Homo sapiens: one gene and its partner. The protein of the gene in region 2 purifies or fractionates together with the protein of the main gene of each other region. This does not show direct contact. Each region holds a gene or a part of one and is shown on either strand. Other genes may lie near its edges.

What was found.
Region 1: the proteins of DIRAS3 (region 2) and SLC30A1 purify together in Homo sapiens (affinity purification with mass spectrometry; 4 studies listed by BioGRID and IntAct, with this or other methods). This does not show direct contact.

Annotation. Positions count from the first base shown.
Region 1 is NC_000001.11:211,576,159-211,583,679, forward strand, and holds the start of SLC30A1 (proton-coupled zinc antiporter SLC30A1), read right to left. Parts: upstream 3,004-7,521; 5' UTR 2,455-3,003; coding exon 1,833-2,454; intron 132-1,832; coding exon 1-131. UniProt on the Homo sapiens protein: Zinc ion:proton antiporter that could function at the plasma membrane mediating zinc efflux from cells against its electrochemical gradient protecting them from intracellular zinc accumulation and toxicity.
Region 2 is NC_000001.11:68,047,608-68,055,347, reverse strand, and holds the start of DIRAS3 (GTP-binding protein Di-Ras3 precursor), read left to right. Parts: upstream 1-4,720; 5' UTR 4,721-4,800; intron 4,801-7,740.

The DNA of each region.
Region 1 (7,521 bases), about 140 Mb from region 2:
ATGCAGAAAAACTCCACGCATGTTAAGTTGTCCAGCCCTATCTTCTTCCAGTTCCATATGGTCAGGTTCTCTGACAAGATTTCCATTCACTTGTACTTCCACTGTATCACCACTTCTGGGGTTTTCTGGGTCTACAAAGAAATAAAAATTTTATATCAAATACATTTAAAGTGTTTATATAAACATCCTTGTCTAATTCTTTTTAAGTGGTGATGAAGGTGAAAATTTTTTCAGAAAGTACAATTAAAAAAATGTGCTCAGAGCAATTTAATATAAATTGACATTCTGGGAATGAGCCAGGACATAATAGCCAGGGCTAAATTAAGTCATTGTGATACTGCTTCTTCACCCTCCTAACCACTCTCCTGCCTCCTCCTCTCCAAAATAGTGTATATTTTCTATGGGGGTGGAGTCCTGCAACCATTCTGCTATACTTTATGGTATATACAAAGGAAAACATAAAATTGAATGCTAACACCAAAATTAAATGCAGCTAGGAATAAGTCTACTAATACAAAATACCTGATTTGACACTCGGGCACTCTCTAGTCACTCTTTGTCACTGAGGCCAATTGCTTGAGAATAAAACCAATTTTAACTTTTAAACTTTTATTATGAATATAAAAGTTTCTTGGTAGGGGGGTTTAAAAACTGACAAATCAACAATAAAAATCAATAATCACAGAGATTATTAGAAAAATTGAAACTAAATGACTACCTGCCCTACTAACTTTTAAATCAAAAGTATTGATCTTTTCAAAAAGTATTGATCAAAAGTATTCAAAAAGATAAAAAGTATTGATCTTTTGAAATTACACACCAGAGAAACTTAATTTTCTTTGGAATAACACCTTGCCGAGTGGAGTGAGAGGAAAACCAATTACTTATTAAACCTTTCCAATGTACAACTTGAATTTCACTAACTTCATATTCTGCACTCGAAAAGGAAAATTATGTAGCATAATTTATAATGATACAAGGTAAATAAACGTAAGTGAAGGAAATAAGACCAAATTGTTAAGCACCATTGAGCTTGGGTAGTAGGACACTGGTTGAGTCATTTCCATCTCCTTTCTTTCAACATTTATTTTCAAATTTCCTTCAAGAGCACTTAATGTTAAATATAAAAAGCATCCACTAAAAATATAAGATGAATAAATTACCATCACTTTTAGTTCAGTACGATTATGAAAAGTCCTGGGAAAATGTTAAACATGCCCAGACAGGTCCTAAATCTATGATTTCCAGGATTAGGGATCAATTAGCTGAAGCATACACTGCTGTTCATAAAAGAAACCTTTAACCAGGGTTTACACGCTCTGAATGCATATTATGAAACGGAGTTCAATGGGCATAAGAACTACTTTGGCAGAGCAAGGTTTCCAGCACCCAACTACTGGGGACGAATTGGGGATTCTCTCCGTTTCCCAAGAGGGCCAAGGAATTGAATTGGGAAGCATTTCTGACGCTGTTATAACCATAACCAGACAAGTCTCCAGCAAAGTTGCTGCAGCCTGTAAAGACAGCCAAGTGCGGGTGTGGACTGCAGCGGGATGATGATCACCTCCTGACCCTTTTTCTTAGGGTCTGACCCACAGCCCCCACCTACAAATATGCCAGACGCGTCGCCGGCTCCTTGCACCCGACTGAGGGGGTTCTGATTTCCTGGAGCAGCAGCGGGGCGTGTGCAGGACGGGGAGGGAGCAGGCAGGGGCGGCGCGGCGCAGGCCCGCTCGGGCAGCAGGGGGCGTGCGGGCCACCCCGCCGAAGGCCAGGCGAGGCTCTGGGCACCCCAAACCCAACCACCTGCGGCAGCGACTTTCCCGGCTCACCTGCGGGGTCCAATTTCAGCCCGTTGGAGTTGCTGGTATTGGCCACCAGGGTGTTGGTCTCCTCCTGGTCGGGACCCTGCTCGCCCGGGGCCACGTTGATGTCGCTGCTCCCGGGGCGGGTGCTCTTAACGCGAGGCCCCTTGGGGAGGCCGTGGCCGTGGCCGTGACCCCCGTGCGAGTGGCCGTGGCCGGAGTCCTGGCTGAAGCCGCTGTGATGGTGGAAGAGGCAGAGCCCCAGCACGTTGACCAGCAGCCCGGCCACGCCGACCCCAAGGACCACCAGCGGCTGCTGCATCTCGTGCGGCTCGATGAAGCGCTCGATGGCCTCCAGCAGGATGGCGAAACAGAGGCCAGTCAGGAAGATGGCGTTCACCAGAGCCCCCATTACCTCGGCTCGGATCCAGCCGAACGTGTTCTTCTGGGTGGCGTGGGTCCGCCGGGCGAAGCGCTCGGCCACCAGCGCCACCACCAGCGCCAGCACGTCCGACAGCATGTGGAAGGAGTCGGAGAGCATCGCCAGCGACGAGGTCACCCGGCTCACCACCACCTCCAGCACCATGAACATGAAGGTCAGCGCCAGCATGCACAGCAGCCGGCCCCGGTTCCGACCCCAACACCCCATGGCTGCGGCTGCGGGGCCCGCCGAGCCCGGCCCGGAGACTGGTGCAGCGGCGGCGTTGGCGGGACGCGGAGGGTCGGCGACCGCGACACGGAGGAGCGCCCGAGTCGGGCCGTTCGGGAAACCGCTGAGGGGCCCCCGCGGCCGCACGGGGACAAGCCCGGGTCAAGCCGCCGAGCCCCGCGCCTGTGGGCGTTCTCCGCCAGCCGGCGGCGCCGCGCCGCGCAGCTCCTCAGGCGTCCGTCCTCAGAGCCGGCGCCGAGGCCCGGCTCAGCCTCAGCAGCCCCCACACCCAGGCGGCGGCGGTGGCGGGGAGCTGGGCTCCCGGAGCCGGGGTACCAAGAGCCGCAGCCGGAGCAGGAGCAGGAGGGCGGCGGGCGAGGGCGGCAGGAGAGGGCGACGGGCAGCTTCGCGCCGAGAAAGCTCCGAGCATCTGAGGGCTCTGCTTGCTGGTCTCCTCTGCGGCGGCTGGACTGAGGAGCGGATGGCTGAGGAGCTAGAGAGGCGGCGGCCACGGCAGCTGCACTCGGCCCGGTCTCGGGCGCCTTCTTCGCCCCCCCGCCTTTGCAGACGGTTTACAAAAAAACTTTGCTTTGCACTCGGAACCCCCGTTTTCACACGGACCCGAGCGTGACAAGGCCTTGCCGCCCCGCCCACCAGGCCCGGCACGCTTCCCCATTGGTCAGGACCCCCTCACGACAGCCTCGGCGTCCCGCCCAGCCACGCTCACTATTGGATGGAGCCTCGGAGGGGCGGGAAGGGGGCGGGGTCGCGGCTCCAACAGATAGGGGCGGGGCCTTTTCCTCCCGGAGCCGGGCGTGGGCCGGGGGGCCGTGGCCGGGTGCAGCGGCGGGCGAATTGGGGGCGCGGGCCGCGTGCAGCGGGAGGGGGAGGGGCTGGCCGGGTCCCCTCGGGTGTGGCGGAGTCCTGGCCTGCGGACCATCGCAACTCCCAGCACACCTGCGGGGGCCGGGCTGCAAAGTCTGCAAACAGACTTTGATCCTCCGAGCCCAGTCCACGTGGGGGCGGGCCGCGCGGCGGCTGTGTGACAGCTCGGCGGCGGGGGAGGGGCCGGAGGGGAGCCCCTGAGCGCGGGGCCCTCGAGTACTCGGTCCTGTCGGAGGAGGCCGACAGACGCATAAACAAGTGCGACTGTAACTTGGGACTCTGCTGGACGCCGAGCTGAGGAGTTAGTCCTCCCGAAGGTCTGCTAGGGGCGTGGACCGAATCTTTGTACATGTTTTGGGAAAGCCAGTTTCTCCTATCACCATCAACCCCTGGAGACCTTGTGTGAACTCAGGTGTCTGTCACTGATTATCTAAGGACAGTTCAGGGTACAGACTTCAGGCAGGAGAAACCTGGGCTCTGCTCCTTGCCTTGTCAATAGCCAGCTGTGTGGCTTTGAGCAAGTCACCTAATCTCTCTAGACCTGTTTCCCCATCTATAAAGGACTGGACAAATGCAACTCTGAAGATCCCCGTCTGACTCCAAAATTCTAAGGCTCTATGATTTAACATTTATTTATAGACTACACACGGTGGAATCTTGTGCTGGTTGCTATGGGGAGGTGGAGGGGCAGTAAGAATACAAAGGAACGAGTTTCTGTCCAGGTGGAGGTAAAATATAAACACGACATTTTAAAATTACGATGGAATACTCTTGATAAATTGTGCTATTTTAGACTGAATACATAAGCACTGTGTTGTGGGTGGAGATGAGTTGATCTGGAAAGGAACAGCTTGCCCATCTAAGGTGGGGTGGTGGCTGGAATCAGAGTGGCTTAAGCTGGACCTGAAAGGCCTCACCACAGCCCCTGCGCAGCAGAAGGACCTCCCCACCCACTGCCCTAGATTACTACTGGACAAATGCAGTGCCAGCTATTGCCTGGAGATGTGTATACAAGGCTTGTTTGGAGCTGTTATTTTGCATTGTTTTGGTATTCTTGTAATTCCTATGAAATTTTTTTCACTTGTATGTAGTGTGTTTCTAGTCTCCCCATCCAGACTGGAGAGCTGGATCCTCACCTTCTGTTTCTGTTTTGCTGGAATATAAAGAATGGAGGAAAATTTTCAAGACATTATTAAGGAAAAAATGATAGAATTTGATGATTAATTGGGTATTGGGAAGGAGGAAGCTAGGTAGGAGAACAAAGATAGTTATAATGTTTCTAACCTGACAAGGAAAATACTGCCTTAAACAGGTGAGGAAGTTGGGAAGGGAGGCCAAGAAGCTGATTTTTAGGAGAAAATATGAACTCCATTTTTAATGTGCTTAATTTGAAGTGAAGTCTGGGTTTGGGCAGTGCTAAAGGGTGGATTAATGGGTTTAGGACTTCCATAACTTCCTCTCCTTTGATATGGATGAGTGACAGTTTTCTGATCATCTGTAAACACAGCTTCAAACATCCTATCAACTAGCCCCTCATATACAGAAATTCGGAAGCCACTTATGGGTCAAGATATCCTCATGGAAATGGCCTAGAGGCAGTTTGAAGACCATTTTGCTTTCTACTAAGGGCTGCTGTGCCTCGCTTTATTTAAAAAATACATTCCTCCAAATGCGAAGATTTGATACCCAAAGAAGAACCAATAAGAAGATGTAAAAGTCAGTGATGCTTGCAAACACAATAGCAATCCTTCAATAACTAAACAGACTAAATTGGGAGATTTTTAGACCCATATAAAAACAGGTTCAACTCATAGCCGCTTCTGAAAACCTACTTTGTGCCTGCATTTCAGCCATTTCCCAGACAATGTGCTTTATTCCCTCCTGGTGGGTGGTTGGGGGCGGGGCAGAGGGGGCAGGGAGTACATTTTCCAGGTTCTAGAGAAGTTATAATCATGTTCTCTGGAGAGAGTAATATTTACCACACAGCAGAACACTTCAGTCAGACTTTGTTTCCCTCTAACATTGTGTAGGCAAAAGACTTTGGTACCTCAACTCGAGCTTTTTCCCTTTTCATCTGGTTGTCCTAGTAGAGTGTCAACACAGGCAGGAATAGATTAAAATGAAGGGACACTATACTGTTATTCACCAACACCCCTGGAGGCTGTGGCCCTGGGTTGAGTAAGACGGCTTGGCTTTCTCTTCTTAATGTTTGAGAAATCTCCTGATAACTTGCTTAGTATCCAAACTGACTAAACCCAGCATACTTTAAAGATGAGAGAATAATGCTCTTTTTGGAAAAGAGACTGCCAATTTGAATGAAAGTCAAGGGCTTCAGACAAACTGCAATCTCAAAGCCCTCTGGACCTCTCCTTGCTTTTAATGAAAGTTTAAAATGATCTTGTAAGATTCTCGTAAAAACTGCTAAACACAAACGTACTTCTGAATTTTGGTAATCAAAAATCATGAGTGTATAAAGCTGTACCTTGCTTGGAAAGATAAAATAACAAAACCCTGTGAAAACCACATTATATTTGACTTTGGCTGACAGTAAATCACTTCTAATGTTCAATCTTAAAACTGATGGGGAAATCTCTCAAAACATAAATGAATAATTATTACAAATATGAAGTGAAATCTCTACCAACAACATGAAGGCCAAGGTTTGATTTCTCAGCTGCTCTCAAAGGAACAGGCAGTGGAACAAAGAATAAACAACTGACAATGCAGCAATAAAGCCCAGAAATAGCACTAAAGTCTCAGAGGTGTGAGGGAAACCATATGAAAGAAATGGTCAGAGCAGGAAACCCACGTAGCAGCAAAGGGGAAACAGGAACAGTGCAGAGAGTGAAACTGTACAGTAAGAGGCTGGGAACAGTCACTGAATTTTTATATTTGTTAATTTAAAGAATAGGCCGGGCACAGTGGCTCACACCTGTAATCCCAGCACTTTGGGAGGCCTAGACTTGTGGATCACCTGAGGTCAGGAGTTCAAGACCAGCCTGGCCAACATGGTGAAACCCCATTTCTACTAAAAATACAAAAATTAGCCAGGCATGGTGGTGCATGCCTGTAAAACCAGCTACTCGGGAGGCTGAGGCAGGAGAATCGCTTGAACCAGGGAGGCAGAGGTTGCAGTGAGCTGAGATAGCACCATTGCACTCCAGCCTGGGCGACAAGAGCAAAACTCCATCTCAAAAAAAAAAAAAAAAAAAAAAGAATAGCAGATGAGGGCTAGCAGCAAAAGGAACTTATTTTTCTTGGAGGCTGGAAACTGGGTCTAAGTTCTCCAGTTATGCCTGGAAATTCAATCTAGAAATAAAGGCACTGCTATCTATACAGAAACACTCATTAAAAGCATCTGTGAATTTCTTGGGTGCAGTGCTATATAATGTTAATACCAGAAATTGTTGAAGGCTCAGGTAGTCAGTGTTAAGACTTTAGACTGAATGCCCATTCTTTCTTTAGCCCTTCTACTCTTGGGGCTGGAGATGGTAATTAAAGCACAATGTACAGAAAATTTGAAAAAAAGAATTTAATTTAAAAGTATGTTTTTATGACTCTCTCCATTACTCATCCCTAAACATGCCGGCCAGTAGAGCATTTTGAAAGGATCACACACCTAATGAGTTTTAGGATGACAGTTCAGGGACTGGCCCTTAAAAGTTACTGTGTGATGTTGGAGAAGTTACTAAACCTCTCTGGGCCTCACTTTCCACATCTTCTCAGTGATGGGGTGTACATGATAGCTTCTTAACTGGAGTTAAAAGGTGAGTACAGGAGATGGAGCTGCCTAGTGCATATTCTCAGACAGGGCCTTTCAGGCCTCCTGTACTTGGGGTCACCAAGAATCCAGAGCTGAGTTCTCAACTTGCAAATTCAGAAACCACTTTTGAATTATTTCACCTAGGCGAACTCATTCATATGGACACAAAAAGGACTCATTTGCCAGCTGGACTTCCAGTTTGTTCACTTTCTCTGTCTCGGGTTAAAGCTCATTGCACAGGTCCTTCCTCCTTCCCTCTTGGTAGGCAGAACCTCACGGAAGGAAGGTTGCATGAGGACGGAACTAGGCTGCAGGAGCTGGAACTTCTGTGGAAGGGAGCATTTCCAGGCTCTCTTCTAGACTGTAAAATTATCTTGCCTTTCTCCAAACAGCCACTCTGCCCTCCTGTTCCTGAGTTG
Region 2 (7,740 bases):
AGAAACTGTAAAAGATGAACTTCTGCAATATGAATTTGAGAAATAAAAAAAAAAAAACAACTGTACCTCAAGGAATGAAATTACCACTTTAAATCAAGAAGACAACATTTTTAACCCAAAACTAGGAAAATTAAATAGATGTCAAGGAGAAGATACCTGTTTAAAAACAGAGTATAAATTTAAAAATCAAAACCCCTTAAAATTTTATTAAAATCAGATAATACTTCAAGAAATCTTGTTGTTTTAAATATAAGGAACCAGACTCTGGTTCTGTATCAGTGCCTGTCCCCTGGTCCCCTACCTGAGAACGTTTAATTTTTAGAAAAACACACAAACAATTTGTTTTTAATTCCAGCCAAGTCAATAACACATAAAACTTCTTTTATTAGCTCATCCTTTATTAGTCCTCTTCAACTTTAGACCTTTTATTTTCCTAACCCCTACCTCTTAGTCCTATAATTTTTCTTTTTTTAAAAATGTGGGATAACCAATCATTTTATCTTATCTGACTATGATACAGACATTTATTTTGTATATATGATTTAACATAAAATTTTAAGACTTTAAATTACATGAGTTCATTTATAAACATTTATTTCATTTACAGTTAATTTATTTTTTAACAATTATACCTATATTTCTTACAAAAATTGAGATATTAGATGGAGCTGGTCATTATTTCAAGTTTTTTTAAATTAAATAATTATATAGCCTGTTAACATGAGGTGTTTACCCACATAAGAGCCATAAAGTTAAATACATGGGTATCTGTAGATAACTCAGAAAATACAACTTTTGTTTTTTTCCTTACAGGCAAAGGCTCACTCTGTTGCCCAGGCTAGAGTGCAGTGGTGTGATCATAGCTCACTCTAGCCTTGAACTCTGGGCTCAAGGGATCCCCCCTCCTCAGCCTTAAGAGTAGCTGGGATCACAGGCACATGCCTGGCTAATTTTTAAATTTTTTTATGGAGATTGGGTCTTGTTATGTTACCCAGGCTGATCTCAAACTCCTGGGCTCAAGTGATCCTCCCACCTTGGCCTCTCCAAGTTTTAGCATTGCAGGTGGGAGTCACTACCCAGCCACAGCTGTTTTTGTTAAATAATATTAAATTAATCTTATTTATCAAAGAATTGCATAAATATATATCACTTTGCTTTAGGCCTGGTTTATAGCTTCATGACCTTAATAGCACAGGCAAATATAAAACTGACCAGTGCTGGTGCTCAGAAACTGATATGCCAAAACATGGTATTTGACACGCTAAACTAAAGAAGCCTCAAGGTCTCTCTGACTTTTCCTCCAACCCCACCATCCTTCCCAAAGAAGCTGAAGTTCCTTTATCTGCCTAACAACCAGACCCACCAAGGAGAGCAATTGTTGGTTCTCCTCCTCCTGTTATCTCATCTGTTAAAGAAAAGAAGACCAAAATGTAACCACACCCAAGCAGACCTTTATAGAAGTACAATGACTGCCTCCAAGGATTATTTAAATTCCAAAGAAAACTATTTACAAGTTAATATCTGTTGCTCAATCCAATCATTCTCTCACCAATCATTCATTGCCCCTCAATAAATTCCTCTTCTCCTCCCATAATCTGTTTTACCAGAATCCAAGCCCCCCATTCTTTCTGTAATTTCAAGACTAGTGTATAAACTTCTATAACTCATTGAGAAGTTGGGTCTTTATTCTGAAAGCTCCTGTGTATACACATTAAATACATTTGTATGTCTTTTCTCTTACTAATCAATGTGGCCCATGTCAGTGATTTTCCAGCAAATCTTTGGGGGGCTGAGAGCCATAGCCCCCACACCAGTAAACACAGGCAAAAATATATATTGACAATTAGAAAGACGTTTTTAATTTTATTTTATCAACAATTTTAAAACCAATTACTTTTTTAAAGATTAAGTTACATGAACTAAAAAAATTAGGTTAATTACTATGTTTTTGTGTGAGTGCCCATCTATTTAAACCAATCAGATTAACATTTCTTAAGGGATTTTTGGCCTACCACACTGAATTTTATTATGTAGACATAACATACAACATAATACATGTACATATGTGTAAATATATTTAAACAAATATACACATAAAGGTCTTCTAGCTTTTATTTTAGAATTTTAGTTGTGAGATAGTAAAACATATAAACTTGCTGGTTTATAGAGAACAGTTGGATCCAAATTATTTTTCTGGTAAAATGAGATAAAGGCTATGAATCAAATTTTGGTAAAACAGTTTGAGTTAATTACCAGTGCAGGGACCAAAGGGAAACTTCAGTGAAGGCTCACTGAAAAATCAACCTGCAAAAGGCAGATTAATTGGAGAAAAAGCATACAAATGTATTTAATATGTATACATGGGAGCCTGCAGAATGATGACCCAAGCATATAGAGGAAATTGTCTATTTTTAACTTAGGATTAATAAAATATAGACAGCAATGTAGAAATATGATTGGACAGAAAGAGTATGAGCTAATGCCAATAAAATGAGTGGGGAAACCCAGTGAAAAAAGCCAAACTCTGTAAAATATTTAGAGGTTTATTCTGAGCCAAATATGAGTGACCACGGCCTGTGACACAGCATCAGGAGGTCCTGAGAACATGTGTCCAAGGTGTTTGGACTATAGTTTTCTTTTATACATTTTAGGAAGACAGAAGATACAGGCAAAAACATCAGTCAATATATGTAAGGTATACATTGGTTTGACCTGGAAAGCCGGTACATTTTGGAGGAGGAGGGGTTTGGCCAGTGGTGGCAGGAGGGAGGTTGTGGAAGCCAGGGTTCTTGTTACATATGTGAAGCCTGTAATATGCTTCAGAAAGAATAGATGGCATATGTACCTCAAAAGGTAAATGACCTTAAACGGTGTCAGACTCTTAGTTAAATCTCTCCCGGATCAGAGAAAGACCTGGAAAGGGAAGGAGATTGTCCACAGAACACAAATTTCCCTCGCAAAAGATAGCTTTGCACAGGACCATTCCAAAATATGTCAGAAATATATTTTGGGGTAAAATACTTTGATCGCCCTTAGGGCTGCTACCTGTCATGTGATGCTATACCAGAATCAGGTTGGAATTTGTTTTGAGACAGGTTCTCACTTTGTTGCTCAGATTGGAGTACAGTGGCTGTGATCACGGCTCACTGCAGCCTCGATCTCCTTGATGTGGGAGGCTCAAGTGATCCTCCCACATCAGCCTCCCAAATAGCTGGGACTACAGGCGGCCACCACCACACTGGGCTAAATTTTTTTAAAGTAGAGACAAGTTCTCCCCATGTTGCCCAGGCTGGTCTCTAACTCCTGGCCTCAACCTCCTTATTCTCTAGGATTACAGGCGCCAGGCTAGACCTCACAGGTCTTTAGACTTCTACGCACCAGGTACCTGGTAGGGGGAGGGATTATAGTGGCAGAAGAGCAGTACCAGTGGCCCACACCACACACCCTGGCCTCAGCTGGCTGGGGCACACAAAACCAGGTGCTACCGTCAACGACTAGGCCCATAGGGTACTGCTGTCAAAACCTGCTGCCAACAACTTCCACACACTCCCCAAAACGCTCGGTAGGCGGTGGTGCGCAGCTTTCAATGCATCCGCCGCCAGGCGCTCACAGGCAAGGGAGAAAGAAGCCAGACGGAGCTCGGAGATGTGGAGGGCAGACGCAGGCGCATTTGGAAAAGGGACTGGCGGTGGGAGGCGCAGAGGGAAAAAGGAACGACACAATCGGGCTTCCTAGCCGCTGGCGGACCCGATGGGGCGTCCTGCGAGGGTTCGGCGAGGGTTCTGCCAGGATAGTAGCATTGCGCCCAAGGAGTGAGAGGCACCCGGGGCTACTGGAGCCAGACCCTCAACCCGCCCTAGTGGGAGGCGAAGAACAACGAAAGCCTCGTATTCCCATTTCTCTAATGGCTAATGACATTAAAGGTTTTCATATGGTTATTTGCCATCTGCATATCTTCAGTGAAGTGTCTGTTTATGTCTTCTGACTATTTTCTAATTGGATTTTTAAAAATAATTGATTTTTGAGTTATTTACATATTCTAGATACTGGTTGTATGCCAGATATATGGCTTGTAAATATTTTCTCCTAGGTAAACCTTTTCAGTATCGTTACAGGGTCTTTCACAAAGCAAAAGTTTTAAATTTATGGAGTCTAATTCATCAACATTTCTTTTTACCGGTCTTGCCACTAATGTCAATTTAAGAACCTTTTGCCTAGCCTTAGACAATAGTTTGTTGTTTTTTAAAACCGTTTTGTAATTTTACTCGTCACAGTTATATCTAGCCACTTAATTTTTATGTAAGGGTTATTTTTGGCGGGGGGGAATCTATAGATGTCCTGTCTTTTCAGTATCATTTGTGGAAAAGATTATCTGTCCTGCATTAAACTGCTTTTGGACTTTCGTCTAAAATCAGTTGGACCGGTTTTTGTTGGCAAAGTTTTGCCTGAAGCTTATTCCAACAGGTGAGAAAAAGTCCACAGTTTAACAGTTCCTCCCCAACCTGTAACCCCGCCTTGAACTTCTGGACTAGCCCCTCGATTGTTGTAGATGCCAAGCGGACCTCGCGCCGCTCTGCGTTGGGCCAGCCCCTCACAGCTGGTTTCTTACCACGTATTGCGCAAGCGGAATCTATGCCTGTTACCCACACTCCCTGCGCCCCCGCACCCCGCTCCTGTGCGCAAGTCGGAATATAAAACCGCGGAGGAGTGAGCTCTTGGGGTGTCCAGTTGGTTGCCGCGGCAGTCTCTCCGAGCAGCGCATTTGTCTTCTAGGCTGCTTGGTTCGTGCCTCCGAGAAAGGTAAGTCTTTCTTTCGCTTTTTTAGGGGTACTTGAAAACAACAAGTGTCAGACAAAGCAGCAGATGCTGTTGCGCAGTAGAAGTTTATGGGCGAGTTGTCCCTGAAACTGGAACCAGGTCTTTCTTGGCGCGATTACGCAAGAACCACCCGCAGCCCTGCGGGCTCCTGGCAGGTCCTGCAACTGCACTTTGGATAGTCCCGTTGGGAAGCTAGCACTTTTTAATATAGAAGAACGAGGTTTGATAAGTGTGCGAGCTTAAAGGTTGACACAGTGTCCACTATTACAGCTGCGTAGGTAGCTAGTGTTCAGGAAGTAATAGTGGAGTCATGTAGTGTGAAAGTAAGATTGAAATGGGCGAGGAGGGTAGCAGCCGCCACAGCCACCAGAGAGAAACCTGACCTTGCAGGTGCGTGGTGATGTCCATGAGCCAGGCTGGTGCCGCAACAGCAGCGGCGGGACCTTGAGCTCCGCACGGCCGCTGGGTTTGGACGCCCTCTGGTTCCTGGAAACTTTCACCTCCCCCTCAGCCTGAGGCCAGGTGGCCTGGGAAGGTGGAAGGAGTGTGGAGGGGAGTGGGGGGGGGGGTCCACTGCCTGAGAATGAGAATTCTCTTCACATCTGGAAACTTCAGTTATCACGTGTGTCCTTTACCAATTTTTTTTCTTTTATTTTCTTTTTGATAGAGACGGCGGTCTCCCTATGTTACCCAGGCTAGTCTTGAACTCCTGTGCTTAAGCGATCCTCCCACCTTGACTTCCCAAAGTGCTGGAATTACAGGCATGAGCCAATGCGCCCGGCTGCTTTACCAATTTTCTATGAATGAATTTGTACATACATCCCCTAGAGCAGGAAGTAATGTAAAACAGAATAATTAGTAATGCACATTTCCTAATGTGGGATGTTGGTGGCCAAGAGATATTTGGTCTTTACTGGAACTCTTGATACTAACATGGAGTTTATAATAGTTGTGGAGAGTGCAGACAAGGCTAGGATTTCTGTGACTAGAGAACTCTTAGTGCGTGAAGACCTAAGGAAAGCTGGATTGTTGATTTTTGTTAATAAATAAGATGTGAAAGATTGCATCACTGTAGCAGAAATCTCCTAGTTTTTTAAGCTAAATTCTATTAAAGGTCATCATTGCTAAAGGAATTGTGCCCAGGATTTGGATAGCTGATGTCATTACTTAATATTAGATGATATCAACTAACCACATCTCATAGACTGGAATAAAGTGCTAGATTTTACCTGAAAGCTGCAAAAATGAATGGTTTAGATATATGTATGTATTTATTTTATATCAATTTCAAATATTTACTGTATTAACCTCCCTGGCCCCCTTTAATCAAGAATATAAAATCATCTACTTAAATTTTGCCACTTAAGTTTAGAACACTCTTAGAATCACACTATCTTAAAGAAGCCAGACTAGAATTAGAAGCAAGTTAAGTCTGAAGATATAACAACCAGCAACAACATTTTTTTTTTTCAAATGAAAACTCTAATATGGGGTGGGTATGTTGTGTCACACCTGTAATCCCAACACTTTGGGAGGCTGATGCAGGAGGATCACTTGAACACAGGAGTTCAAGACCAGCCTGGACAACATAGCAAAACCCTGTCCCTACAAAAAATAAGAAAATTAGCTGGGCATGGTGTCACATGCCTGTAGTCCCAGCTACTCGGGAGGCTGAGGTGAGAGGATTGATTGATCCCAGGAGGTTGAGGCTGCAGTGAGTCATGATCGCATGACTGCACTCCAACCTGAGGGACAGAGCAAGACCCTGACTCAAAAAAAAAAAACAAAAAAAAAAAAACCACCACCAAAACTCTAATATGGACATATTACTCTCTCATGGGACTTGCACATTCTAAAAAGGGTCCTTTTCCCCAGTACTGGGAGAGTATGTGTTCAACTACGCAGCCAGCAAGACAGGCTAGTTTATATAGGGAGTGTGCTATTCACAAAAAGCCTCTCTTCTCTTTCTGGTATTGTACATGACACAATCATAGCTGTACCTGAAGAGAAGTGCATTTTAAGGACCATCATCACCTAGAAACATGTATAAATTTCTATACCTAGTGCCACAGGAATGACATTGCCTTGTACTATTCCTACCTCTGTCCAGAGGCCAGCTATGTGGTCTGTCTGCATGGTGCCTAGAACTTTTTCCATCTGACCTAGGATGCTTCTGAAGCAGTCCCCCTGGGCAGCTGTCTGGTATTTAGGATATACCTGTGAGAAAAGTTTCTTACAAACCTAATCTACTATGTTTATTCCTGAACTCAAAAAGTTCATTGACTGTTCAAATCCTGAAATTTTCTCTATTTCCATAAGGCTGAATTAAAAGTACTTTGTTAAAGGTAGTAGCCATGGCAAAAGAAAAACCACTGTTCTGTAGAAAAACTCATTCAATATTTACAATCTTTTCTAATCAGAGATTAGATCCTGAAGAGAAAGGTTCATATATATATATATATATATATATATATATATATTTTTTTTTTTTTTTTTTTTTTTTTTTTTTTACTCCACTGTCATTGTGACTAAGGATTCATGAACTAAGACCCCTCCCTCAGCTCTTGGTGGCACATGGTGACAGCATGCTCAGAGCAAAGGTGCTCCCCATGCCTCTTCTGGGGCTGCACTGACTGCAGGTACCTCCCCTCTCTACATCCCACACCACTGATACCAAAAACCCCCTCCTTTCTCCTGTACTGATGACTCTGTAGCTTTAACCAGGGCGGCGGTGTCACTCTAAATGTCACCTTGGCATTCAGCCCCATAGAGTGGGGAAAATTCCCTCACCTGTTTCTCTTTGACTGTTCAGTCCTCTTCAATTAAAATCTTAATTTTACAAGCGAGGAAATGAGAGTGTTTCTTGTAGGGGTGTAGTGAGAATTTAATAAAACAGTTTAAGGAAAGAAAACAAAAGGTAGT